4 linked regions of the Homo sapiens genome follow. The protein of the gene in region 4 purifies or fractionates together with the protein of the main gene of each other region. This does not show direct contact. Each region holds a gene or a part of one and is shown on either strand. Other genes may lie near its edges.

Region 1 (2,543 bases), on a different chromosome or scaffold from region 4:
GACTCTCTCTCTAATGCTGCTCTCGGGAAGGACGAAAGTGACCTGCAAGGAGAGAAATGCAACCATACATGGGCTCCAGTCAACTATGGGACTGAAGGTCCTAATTGCTCACCCAAGGGGGCTGCTTAACACAAACAGCCTCAGACCCGAGGTTTAGATTTCTGAAATATGCATTTTATGTTAAGTTGGGTATTTTTTTAAAAAAAGAAAAACAGCAACATTAATAAAAGAAGTGGTGTGTTTTTCCCGTGGCCAGATTTTTAAGAAACTTGAACATCTGGAAGTTGCCACAGACAAGCGAGCTAGTCCAGACACAGGGACACTCCAGGCTATGAACCAAGCCATGGTTAAACCAAGACTTGCCTAGACAATGCAGAATAACTCTCCCATACAGACTTCTTACGACAATCAAGTGAGGGCCTTTCCCTTCTCTGAAGGCAAGTAATAGGGCAGAAGGTGGAACAAAAAGCATGAGAAATCTAAGGTAGCCACATCCCAAATGCCAGTTAATAAGCAACTAGCTTCTTTATTAGAGAGGAGCGGGTGAAAAGTAGTAGTTTAATGTTCAGATATACAATCATTTAAAAGTATTCAATACATGGTGTTTGATGGTAATGGCAGGATGATGTCAAGTCTCTCTTTTTTTTTTTTTAAAGGTTTGTTTGAGTCCTATGTGGAAGCAAAAATTCACAGGTGAATTTCCGGGTGTTTGCCAAACTCTAACTAGGTTTCCAGGAATAATGTGTTCACTCTGATTACCAGGGCATGCCTCCTTTCCTCAGGCTTCAAGTGTGATAAGTCGTCGGAATTTGACCCAAGACTACTATCGGCAAATGACAAAGTGCTTTATCACATTCCTGCTAAGTCCCAGAATTCCACTTACAGCCAATCCTGAATGAGACTAGGTTTTGTCTAAAGAATCAAGGCTCAAACGCCAAGAAAAAAATAATAATAATAACCATAATCTCTTTAAAAGTAAAGGAAGCCTAGAAAATCCATGTTTTGACTTGTGTTAAGGTTTACAGATGGTACTCAATTTACAATGGTTTGTCTTGCAATTTTTGGACTTTACAACGGTGCAAAAGCCATACACATTCAGTACACCCTTCAACTGAACTCAACTTAAGATGGGGTTACCCAGACATAGACCTAAGTTGAGGAGCATCTGTAATTGCAGAGTTAAGCAAAATATTTTAAGTTTCTTTAAGTTTCTTATCCCCCACTCTCACTTTCAATTTTGTGTATTTAGATAATCTCTCCTTCCTTTTTCCCTTCAACTTTATGTGGACAAAAGCAATGCTTCAAGAAAAGCCTCAATCTAAAAGTTTGATAATGAACTTGACCCTCCACTGCCCCTACCCCAACAACATGAAGAACTTGTCTGTTCCACCTAGAAATACAAAAGTGAAATACTTTTTTGAAACTGTTGCCTCTTATCAGGCTGATATGTGATAAGAACACAGTCTAAAGTACAAAGATTATATTTAACCAGTACTTTCCTGGTGTTTTAACCAGCCCCTTCTAAAATACAGTTGTTCTTTTATACTTGGGAAAGCAGCAAGTCCTGTGACAGACCCAAAGTCACTCTAGGGAGAAAATCAATAGCAAGTCTGGCTGTTTTAACTCTCAACACCACTGTAAGGGAAAACAAGAAAATGTCTAGTTTCCCGAATAGCTCTGATACTGAACCATTGGCTAAATCCATGAACTTTATTTTCCTACCATGACCACAATAGACGACTGGTCTTTGCAGCTTCGGAAGAAAAGAGGACTAATATTTAGACCCCAGCTGGCTGCACATCCAAATCTTCTATGGAGGTTAAAAACACAAAAGTGGCCATCCCACTCCACCACCAAATTTTTTTTTTTAATTGAGATAGGGTCTTGCTCTGTTGCCCACACTGGAGTGCAGTGGCACAATCACAGCTCAATGCAACTTCAACCTCCCAGGCTCAAGCCATCCTCCCGCCTCAACCTCTAGAGTAGCTGGAACTACAGGCCTGCACCACCAGGCCCAGCTAATTTTTAATTTCTTTTTTTTTTGTAGAGACAGGGTCTCGCTATGTTAACCAGGTTTGTCTCAAACTCCTGGGCTCAAGTCATCCTCCAGTCTCAGCCTCTCAAAGTGCTGAGATGACAGGTATGAGAATTTTTTGAGAGGAAGTGGCCTTTATTTTTTTAAAGAAGACTCATAAGGATTTTTGACAATCACTGATTTATTGGGTCACTAGTCTGTGCTAAGTACTCTGCCAGGCATTTAACATACATTATTTCACTTGTTTTCATGATTAAATTCAGGCAGGTTCAATCACAGAAACCATGCAGTGGACAAAAGAGAGAAAAAGTTCACCATGAGGAGATTCTAAAAACCTGCCTTTTGACTTGTCTATTTTTATCTCTTATTTCTCACTTTGCTTCTCCTCCCGCTTGGACCCTTTGTCTGACTGTTTGAAATTAAGTTGCAGGTGAACCCTCCATTACCCATGTCCAGAACAAATAGACATAAGCACAGAACCTCACTAACTCCCCAAATTTTTATTTTT
Region 2 (2,251 bases), on a different chromosome or scaffold from region 4:
AGGCCTTTCCAAGCAAGATAGGACCCCCAGCCATGGGGGCACACTTGGGACACCTGGGCTCAGGCCCAGCCCTATTGCCAAATCATGAACGTGCCCCTCTCTGAGCCTGAGGATCCCTGTGAGTTAATTGGGGGTGGCTTCCCTTGCCCAGGGAGACACAATCAGTATGACAGTATCTATGACCTGCAAAAATGAGCAATTTAGCATGTCAGTCATTTATACTTCATTAGTCCCATAGCAACCCTCCAAGAGGGCCCTTTTATGATCCCCATTTTACAATGGGGAAATTGAGGCACGGGGGGTTAATTTGCTCAGTCTGTTTGCTCACAGACTCAGCAGATGGCCAAGCTGGTACTTAGGCCAAGGCAGTCTGGCCCCAATGCCCATGCTGGGAATTGCTGGGGATCACAGTCCTCTGTGCCTCTCTCACCACAAAACTGGAACCTCACAAACTCCCTGCCACTAGGCAGGGCCTCCCCAGCCCCTACTGGCCTGCCCCACCTCCATTTGGACTGGCACATTTGGACTGGGCCATCACATTCCCCTCAGAACAGCCCTGATAAATGTACCGGTGCATGTGAGTACATATATGCATGTGCACGCATATGTGTGCGCCTGTGTGCACGTGTGGGTGGGTGTTTACTATCAAGAAGCAACAGACAGCCGTGAGCCTCACTCACCCCAACTAGGGGGTGGGAAGCCCAGGGGTGGGGCAGATGTTTGCTGTGAGCATTACTCAAGAGAGAGAAGATGACTTAATGGCTTGCATTTCAGCCACATCAAAAAGCCCTGCGCCAACGTTAAAATCACATCCCATTGCCACCAGCCCCATAAAGGGCTTCCCTGGACGTGCCCGATTTCCAAAGCCTAATCTTTGTAGTCACATCTCCACCTCTATCTGCCAGTGTTGGGGCCCCTCTGGGGCCCAGCAGCGCTAAGACAGGAGGAAGGCACGGGGCTGGGGGAGAAGGAACCCCTAGACCCTGCTCACCACTGCCCTTCGGCTTTTCAGCCACACCGGTGAGCCCCGCCATGTCCTACCTGAGTGAGTACATGCTGGCAGCTGCCACTCCTCCCACTGCTTAGAGCCTGCCCCTGCCACATGTCCCTCCACCGTGGCTACTCACTCAGCTCTCCGGGATGGGCAGATGGACAATGTGCCCTGAGGAGATTGCGGGGTGGGAGGGCAATGGCATTAGCGAGCGGGAAGGGGAGGGGAGGGGCATAAGCTGAACTCCTATGGGGGTCGTCGGGCGCCTCCCAGGGCCACTTGCTTAGCTCAGCCCTCTCTCCCTTTGTATCTGCAGCCAGCTACCAGCCTCCTCAAAACCCCTACTACTATGGTGAGTCCCTGGCTGCTCCTCGGGAAGGCTCAGGGGCCTGGGCACGTGCTCCTGCCTGTCTCGGAGTCGAGCCCATGGAGGCCAGAAGGCTGGGGGAGGCCCCAGGTATGATGAGAGGCCCCGGGAGTCAGCTCCTTCTCTAATGTGTCACCAGTGGACGGGGATCCCCACTTCATCATCCAAATTCCGGAGAAAGACGATGCCCTCTGCTTCAACATCGATGAAGCCCCAGGCACAGTGCTGCGCCTTATTCAGGATGCAGTCACAGGTGAGGCTTGTGGGCTAGGGCCGGGGCCAGGGGGCTCTTCCTGGGAGGGCTTGGGTCCCCCGAGGTAGGCACAGGGAACAGGTTCTCACTCTGCCCAGTAAGGCATCATCTTCACATGCAAAGAAACCCCTGGGGGTGGGGAGTGCCCAGGGCCACAGGCTTGCTCAGCCCCACATGCCAGTGCTATTGGGAGATGATTAGCGTGAATGGACCACCTGGGCCTAGGGTAGGACCCAGCCTGTGTCTGGGGAATAGCTTTTCTCTGAACAACACTCCCTGGCCCAGGCAAGTGGCAGACCCATAAGGTCCCAGCATGACCCAAACCTAGAGTGTCTAGGAACCAACAGGCTTGGGCTCTGAAGTCCTGGTCTCTCTTGTGGCCCCCGCTCTGCTGCCCCTCAGCCAGTCTGGTTGAAGAGGAAGGCACACCCCTAAAGGCAATCTGGACTCAGAAGTTCTCGCTGGTCTCTCTCCCTGCCCCATCCCTCTGGCAGGCCTCACAGTTAATGGGCAGATCACTGGCGACAAGAGAGGCAGCCCTGACTCCAAGACCAGAAAGACTTACTTTGGAAAACTGGGCATCGCCAATGCTCAGATGGACTTCCAGGTGGAGGTGACAACGGAGAAGATCACCCTGTGG
Region 3 (4,183 bases), on a different chromosome or scaffold from region 4:
TGTTACTTGGCCATTAGAGGAAGCAAAATTTTCTTTTTTTTTGAAAAAAAGCTGCCTTGAATTCCTAATCACCATATATAAATTTCACAGCTCTTTGAAACTTCTATAAAATCAACTTCTGTCCCTCCTGGATTTCAAAATACTACTTATCTTTGTCTTCTTTTATAATACCCAATAGGTCACCAACATTTATTAAATGAATGGTTAAAAATATGCTGAATTCTAGATAACCAGCTTACAGATGACCCTTTGAGAAGCAACCTACACCGGACAGCACATTTCATAACTAATGGATAATGCGGTTTAAACGGTGTCCTTACTTCTAACAAGAACCACGATGAAAATAGAGGAACCACAGTCGTCAGTGTCCTTAATTCCTTACTATATACAATAAAGTATGAGTTTACAGAAGTGAATGTATATACTTCAAATGCTCCTTTGGTCCAAATAGTTCTGGACTCTCTTGACAGGATACAAGACAAAACAAAACTCCCATTGTCATGTGCTTGCTACCATACCATCTACTTGCAAAATAACTTTCGTAGTGCTTAGGCAATCAATTATTCTTTCTTCAGTTTTAGAAAGAAGAAATCAACAATATTTTGCTCTCTTCATCAACACATCTGAAACTACTAGAGTTCCCAACTTTGGCCAATAGTTTGTAAGCACTGATAAGGATATGTAACATTCTCGTGTAATTTCTAAATAAGTTTCATTACTTCTAACCTCAAGATTATCATTTTTGTCCTTTTTCCTAAGATAAAAAGACAAAAATGTAAAATAGGTTATAAGGACCCCTAAAAACATAAGGGAAATGAAACCTAAGACTTAAATGTGACTGTGGAATACACAATCTATTTTAGCATACTGCGGTAAGCCACTGGTATAAAACATATCGACTTGATTGAACCCTCTAGAGGTGACTTTTGGGGAAAAAATGAAAAATCTAAGATGAAAATATTCTGAAGTTTCATATTATAAAGGATATAAAACACACCAGTCTGACTTGAAAGTTGACAGAAGTAAAATTTATTAAATAGGTGCAAATTCTAATAGTGCAATTAAGTATGGCTCACTAGATTAGAAACCTTTAAGATAATTCACTATTCTAACTAAAAGCACCCCAGAAAACTGATGTTAAAGTAATTTTACATTCCTTATGTATAATGGTTAGAGGAACTGCAAACTAAAGGAAGTTGCATTCTTCTGTTTTTAAAATTTAGACTATTCAACCTCCCTTTACATTTGGCTAACATGTAAAAAAAAAATCTGACAGTTATTTTAGATTTAGTTAAGAAAAAAATTCTACAAAACTATCAATGAGGCTATTCTAAAATCACTATTTAAAATTTTGAAAACACTATGATTGAACCAAGAGAACACAAGAGGAGGTTTTAGGACCAAGTAAAGGACCATACTTGAGGTATTATCACGTATACTTGACAATATTCAAGAATCATACTTGATAGTGTTCGGATTTTGCAATACTTTAAACTTGCATCTAAAAGACAACTTGTTGATGGATCTTGGCTCGATTTCAAGAACCTATCTAAATATCATAAACAGCATTTTAAGCTGATTGGAAAAAAACAGACAAAACTTAAGTAAAATGGAATTCTCTAAAATACTTTCTCGGAATATCGGAGGAGGGCTAAAAACAAAGGAAAAAAAAAGAATCAAAACAAAAACATGAGAGTACTATGTTTTACCACTGTATTCCAAACCACTATGCTGCTCAAGTAAAATTTACTTTACCTCTTCCCTTCACTACTGCGTGCTTCATATCAACTGAATGTGGCAGCTACCCACACAAGTGTTCAATGGGCATGTGAACGCAACGCTGTGCCATTTCCCTCTCCACATGTTCTCTAGGGTTAAAACTACAGTTCCTTTAAATCCTCGTGTTTCATTTTCCTTTTCACAGAAATCCTGTAATGACCCTAAAGCAGATAAGAGCAGAGCGGCCTCTACACCCAGGGATAAGGAGCACGAGCAATCACTAGGTGCCAAGGAGTTTGAAACGGAGCCCGGCGGAGTGGGACAGGGGAATCCACTACGGCTACCGGGGCCAGGCGAGTGTCCTCCGCGCCGGAGCCGCAGAGGACCGCGGCTGCTCCGGCGCCCGCGCCAGGACTTCTCCCACCTCGCGCCCCGGGAGACTTACCTGCCCAGCCAGGGGCGAGCGCGCCGGGCTGGCCCGGGGGAAAGCCCCGCTCACTCTCCACTGCGGGTCCCCGGGGCCGTTACCTAACTGGTCCCAGCTCCAGGCCAAGAGGCCGCGCTTCAGGGAAGGGCATGCGCTCGCCGGCGACGCCCAAGCCCCGAGCCCCGAGCCCCGAGCACCGGCGCCCGGGAGTCCGCTGGGGCCCGCCTCAGCCCCCCGCCGCGCCGCCGCCGCCGCGCGCCCCCAGGCCCCGCCTCCACCGCCCAGCCCTCCATCCTCCTCAAGCCACCTCCTGCCCACTGCGGCGCCTCCTCACCTGCCCCAGCCGCCGCCGCCCGCGCCTCCCCCGGGCCTCCCCGCGCCGCGACCCTAGCCCCAGCCCCAGCCCCAACCCCAGCCCCAGCCGCCCCCGCCCCCCTGCCGCGCGCTCGTCCCCAGCGCGCCCCGCTCCTCCTCATCTGCCCGGGCCCCGAGCTTTACCTTGTAGGAGTCGGTGGCCAGGAGGATGTTGAACTCGGCTTCTGCCGCAGGATTCATCTCGGGCCGGAGGACAGGGGCCGCGCGCCGCGAGCTCCCTGGCGCGGCTGCGAGGAAGGAGAAAAATGAGCTTCACCGCGCTCCGTTGCTTAAGTCACTGCTCGGTCGGCGGAGGAGGGGGAGAGGGGGAAACGGAGAGAGGGGAGGGGTCAGAGGAGGGCGGGCCCGGGAGCCGTGACGCGGCGCGGGTGACGGCTGCGGCGGCTCGCGTGCTCGCAGTCTGGGAGCTCTGGCGGACTCCCCACCTCGGTTCCCCCGCCTTCACCCCGTCACCCTCCGGGGGCCGAGAAAGGGCGGGGCGCGGCAGCGCGCTGCGCAGTGCGCGGAGGCGGGGCGGGGAGGAGGACGTGATGCACGCGCTCTTCCTCCCAGACGCCAGCTCTGGGAAGCTGGAGGCAGCGGGGCAGCCCCGGCGCGTGACCCGGGCGCTTACCTAAGTTCGAGTTCCCGGCACGGGCGCGGGAGGGCGGGGCCTGGAGGGGGCGTTCCCAGCTTTGCCAGTGCCACGAGGAGCCGGTTCGCCCGCCCCGCCTGGGACCTTCCGTCCTACCCAGTCCTGGCCGGTTTTCTGGGTCCTCCTGAAGTCACGCCACCCGGCTAGGGGGCGAGGAGCCTCCTACTGCCCATCTTCCCGTCCACCACGCGCAGTTACTCACCTTTGTCTCCGGCCTGGATTAAGGATCCAGCCTTTCGCCTCCATCCCTCTTGTCCCTCCTGATCCTCCTGACCCTGTCTTTAAGATCCCAGGAGCTGCGGTGAGGAGTGAGGCTGAGGGGCCCCTTTCATCTGATGCAGCGACTCCGCTTTCCTCCGGCGGCTCTGTCTATGGCTGAGCTCTTTGATCCTTTGAGAGATGGTTTGACTTTTCCCGAGCAAAGAGCCTGCGTTGAAAAGCGGGGGTGGAATTCAGTCCTCACAGATAATGAGGGGACAAGACCTAATTGAACCGAGTATTGCCGGGAAGGAAAAGGCAACGGGCCAAGCCTTTGACAGGGTGCGACACTGACTTTTATCATCGTTATAGTCTTTAAATCCTGGGAAACGAGTTGGCAACCCCAAAATAAAGAAGTGTAATGACGTCTGATGACTTCACCCAAATACAGACCATTCCAAGAAAGACTTGCGCAGTTCTCATGCGTGGTTGCGTTTTTGCATAAAACTAAGATTCCCTTTGTCCGCATGTTTAATAGCTTAAAAATAAATTGAGGTTTTTATCGGATAAAAGTAGCCAGGAAAAAGTGATACAGTGAAAACGATTACAGGATATTTATAGACTTGTCTTTCAAGTTATTAGAAGTCTCATTCTATCTGGGGGCAGTGATGGTGGTGGTGGTAGTGGAACTTGTGAATTGAGATTCATAGTGGAACTTGTGAATTGAGATTCATCTCGAAACTGGAGGCATGGCTGAGACTTCTAATAAAGACAACCTCAGTCAACACTATGTCTTGAAGTCAGTATATATTTTTGACAATCACCTCATC
Region 4 (3,500 bases):
ATAATAAAGGGTACCATAATAGTAATAGCAAATTGTTACTGAACACTTGTGAGCCAAAAACTCAGTTAGTACGGGATAAGTGCTTGGCATGCATTATTTCATTCAGTCATCGCAATGTTGTGAGGTAGGCACAATTACATTTTACAAGTGCAAAAACTAAGACATAGAAGAAAATATTAAATATTTCAATTACACAAGCATTTAAAATTCCTTTCCTAATATCACCCTATAGACAGTGAAAAGAGTAATGGTCTGGATTCTAAAAATGAGACATTCGCAATGCATGTATTAACAAGAGATTGATATCGGGAATACATAAATACCTCCTATGAATCAATTTCTTAAAAAGTATTTATTGTATATATTTAAGATGTAAAATATGTCTGGGATACATAGATAGTGAAAAGGTTACTATAGTCAAGCAAATTAACATATCCATCATCTCACCCACTTTTTTTTGTGTGTGGCAAGAGCACCTAAAATCTACTCTTCAGCAAAACTCAAGTACAATACAATATTATTAAGCATTGTACTGCATTTTTAACGTTATTTCTGGGTAACCTCAGTTTCTCCCGAAGCCCCAGCCATAAATGGCATATACAGTTTGACAATGATTTCTCAAATTATCTGTGTGCATATTTAACCACAAACAACAATTTTCTCTTTTTATCCTCCTATTTTATGGATGTGTGTTGAAATGAGAATAGGAATTTTATGAAAATTCTACAGACTGTTTTCCAATCCCATCATCTAAAGGACAACTGATTTTCCTATTGATAATATTGATATTATTAATACAAATTATAATAGTTATCACATGTAGTGCTAAGTGCTTTCTAGAGGATTATCTCATTTAGTTCTTACAGTAACTTTGTTGGCATCATCATTCTCTTTTCCAGACCAGGAAACTAAAGTTCACGTTAAGTAACTTGCCTAAGAAGACATACCACGTGGTAGGCAGAATTAATGTCTGCGCCCAGGTTGTCTGACTTTTAGGCACTATGCTTTATTGCTTCAGTCATCTTTAAGAAGTTATAATAAAATTAGAGTTTGTTAGTCATCTTGGGAATCTACCTGGAGGTGCACAAGCAGAGGTAAATGCTTCTTTGCAAGCTCTGCAGAGACAGCTTTAACAAAGCAGGGAAGTGTCAGATAACGATGTTTCAGCGCAACTCGGTTCCTGCGTTACCTCCTGCAAGTTGCTTAACCTCACTGGGCCCCAGTTTCATCCTCTGCAAAAAGAAGCCGTGGCATGAGAGGATCTCTGAGGCCCCTTCTTAATTTAATGACTCAAATGCTCCCTAATTTAAAGAAGCTTGTGAAATGAGAAAAGAAAAGAGGAAGTAAAAGGGAGATTGGGGAGGACTCAGCCCATCAGCATAGAATCTTCTGGATGGGCTTTCCTCACCTTCCTCAGCTGCTCATCCCCTATTCTACAAAGGGCAGAGCTGAGTTTTGCTTATTTTTGACTTTGGTCCTTTGCACAGGAAAAATGAAATGGAGAATGAACAGTTATATGTTTAACCAGGTTAATGTGGACCCCATTTATTAGGCCCCAAAGCACATATCATTTTTTCACACAGGCTTGCTACTCTAGTTTTCTGTATTTTCTGCTTCACAGATGCGCATACAGATTAACTTTCACATTGGAGGCCTCACATCCTCATGTTTGCTACTCAGCAAAGCACTGGCAAGCATTAGATGTGCTGAGATGGGGACTTAATCTTCTCAGGCTCAATTAAAATGTCGAATTAAATTAGGATGGTTACTCACAGCATGCATATGACATAGCACACATCAATGTTTTTGCTTGCAAATTCAGTGAAATTTCCAAGACTTTGAAAGTGAATTACACTTAAAAATTTACACCCATGTCAGGATAGAGCATCATCTGTTTCATTAATGCAGCTCTAAATGAACTGAGGACAAGAAAAGGTAGAACTCCTGAGTTTAGATTAAACAAATTACCTGGGTAATTCAGAGAAAGGTGACTTTCATGTCTCATAGAACATAGATTGAGTCAGATGGACCAGGGATTCAAAACCAGGCTCTGCATTATGACAGGACTCAATCAAGTTGCTAATTTCACTGAGCCTCAGTTTTATCACCACTAAAATGGGGATATTCTTTTTTACGGGGTTGAAAGATTGGAGAAAACACATGAAAAATTATAGGACTATACTGGTCAAGAATAGATGTTCCGTGAATATTTGTTCCCTTCCTCTTCTTCCTTCCCTGCCCCAGTGTGGTCTGCTTTGTTGCAAAGCTTCACTGAAGCTAGGTAACTGTTTCCACACCAAATACTTTCCCCTGGATGGGAGCTATGTCCCCACTCCTTCCTCCTTAAAAATAGATTTTTGTCTTTGAGGAGTATTAAAGAGATAAGAAGTTCTGGGGAATTGAAAGGATTGTTTAAAAACTGAATCAACCTTAAAATGAGACTATATTATATTTCTTTTAAAAACTTTCATGTAAACAATTTAATTTTAGGTTTTATTTATTGCTCCCTGTCTTCATTGAAGCCAGAGGTCACTCTGCGAATGATGAGAAATGTCAGTGAACACAGGCACAGCTAATGAAGAGAATTCCCTCTGGCTCTGGAGCAAAATACCACAGAGACTTAACTCACGGCCCAAAGCTGGATCTGCAAAATTGTGCTGGATTATGCATCTAGACACACAGGCCATGGATATTAATGTATTAGGTAGAAGAGATAGCGATGAGAGAGAGAGAAGGAAGAGGGGAAAGAGGGAGAGAGAAAGAGGAGAGAGAGAGGAGGGAGAAGGGAGAAAGAGAGAGAGGGAAGAGAGAGAGAAAAGTGGAAATACCAGAAGTAGGGGATTTCTATCAGAGAAGTTCCTATGTGAGCATCAGCATTCTCTGTAACTCCTGCTACCTCCACTTTCCCTGCTGACTAGGATATGTCTGACTTCCCCCAAATCGGGCTGTGGGTCTAGTGCAGGTCTGGAGAGTCAGGCCATCTCTAAAACACTGTTGACATTTCAGAGCTAGTCAAGGATTTGAATGTGCTGTGCTGCTTGCCTGGCAATTTGGTGTATTACGGGATTGCAAATTTGTCTCTCAGGACACCAGAAGCCTTCTTGGTTCGGGATTCCACCCTCTCCCCACCGCCCCTGTCCCTGGTGACATGGAGGAATCCATACTCCCCACTTTGCGGTGCTGCTTTCTACCACCTCAGCCCCATGAAGGACTACGAAAACTTCAAAACTGGATGAGAAAAACCAAAGACAAGATTATTTTGTAAGAGACAATAAATATTGTAATCAATCCAGAGAAGGGCACAAATTACTAGAAACGTAATTTCTTACCATTTGTCTTTGTGAGAGAAACAATTTATTATTTCTTGCCTGTGCATTTTTTAGTGTGTTTTTCTAACCCACATTCATATGCACAAAGAGAGAGAACTCAAAGAGATCCCGTGAGCTTTGCTGAGTGCCCAACGTGTGAAGTCATGCCACCAAGTACCTTCACAAATATTA

The links. The genes of interacting proteins can lie anywhere in the genome.
Region 1: the proteins of ARHGDIB (region 4) and OARD1 fractionate together in Homo sapiens (co-fractionation; one large-scale study listed by BioGRID). This does not show direct contact.
Region 2: the proteins of ARHGDIB (region 4) and ITIH3 fractionate together in Homo sapiens (co-fractionation; one large-scale study listed by BioGRID). This does not show direct contact.
Region 3: the proteins of ARHGDIB (region 4) and NAMPT fractionate together in Homo sapiens (co-fractionation; one large-scale study listed by BioGRID). This does not show direct contact.

What each region holds. Positions count from the first base shown.
Region 1 is NC_000006.12:41,064,272-41,066,814, forward strand, and holds the end of OARD1 (ADP-ribose glycohydrolase OARD1), read right to left. Parts: 3' UTR 501-2,543; downstream 1-500. UniProt on the Homo sapiens protein: ADP-ribose glycohydrolase that hydrolyzes ADP-ribose and acts on different substrates, such as proteins ADP-ribosylated on glutamate and O-acetyl-ADP-D-ribose.
Region 2 is NC_000003.12:52,804,796-52,807,046, forward strand, and holds part of ITIH3 (inter-alpha-trypsin inhibitor heavy chain H3 isoform 4 preproprotein), read left to right. Parts: intron 1-466; coding exon of another isoform or gene 467-577; intron 578-1,012; coding exon 1,013-1,045; intron 1,046-1,307; coding exon 1,308-1,343; intron 1,344-1,497; coding exon 1,498-1,611; intron 1,612-2,105; coding exon 2,106-2,251. UniProt on the Homo sapiens protein: May act as a carrier of hyaluronan in serum or as a binding protein between hyaluronan and other matrix protein, including those on cell surfaces in tissues to regulate the localization, synthesis and degradation of hyaluronan which are essential to cells undergoing biological processes.
Region 3 is NC_000007.14:106,282,184-106,286,366, forward strand, and holds the start of NAMPT (nicotinamide phosphoribosyltransferase precursor), read right to left. Parts: upstream 2,801-4,183; 5' UTR 2,702-2,800; coding exon 2,645-2,701; intron 1-2,644.
Region 4 is NC_000012.12:14,955,102-14,958,601, forward strand, and holds part of ARHGDIB (rho GDP-dissociation inhibitor 2), read right to left. Parts: intron 1,233-3,500; exon of another isoform or gene 1,075-1,232; intron 1-1,074. UniProt on the Homo sapiens protein: Regulates the GDP/GTP exchange reaction of the Rho proteins by inhibiting the dissociation of GDP from them, and the subsequent binding of GTP to them. Regulates reorganization of the actin cytoskeleton mediated by Rho family members.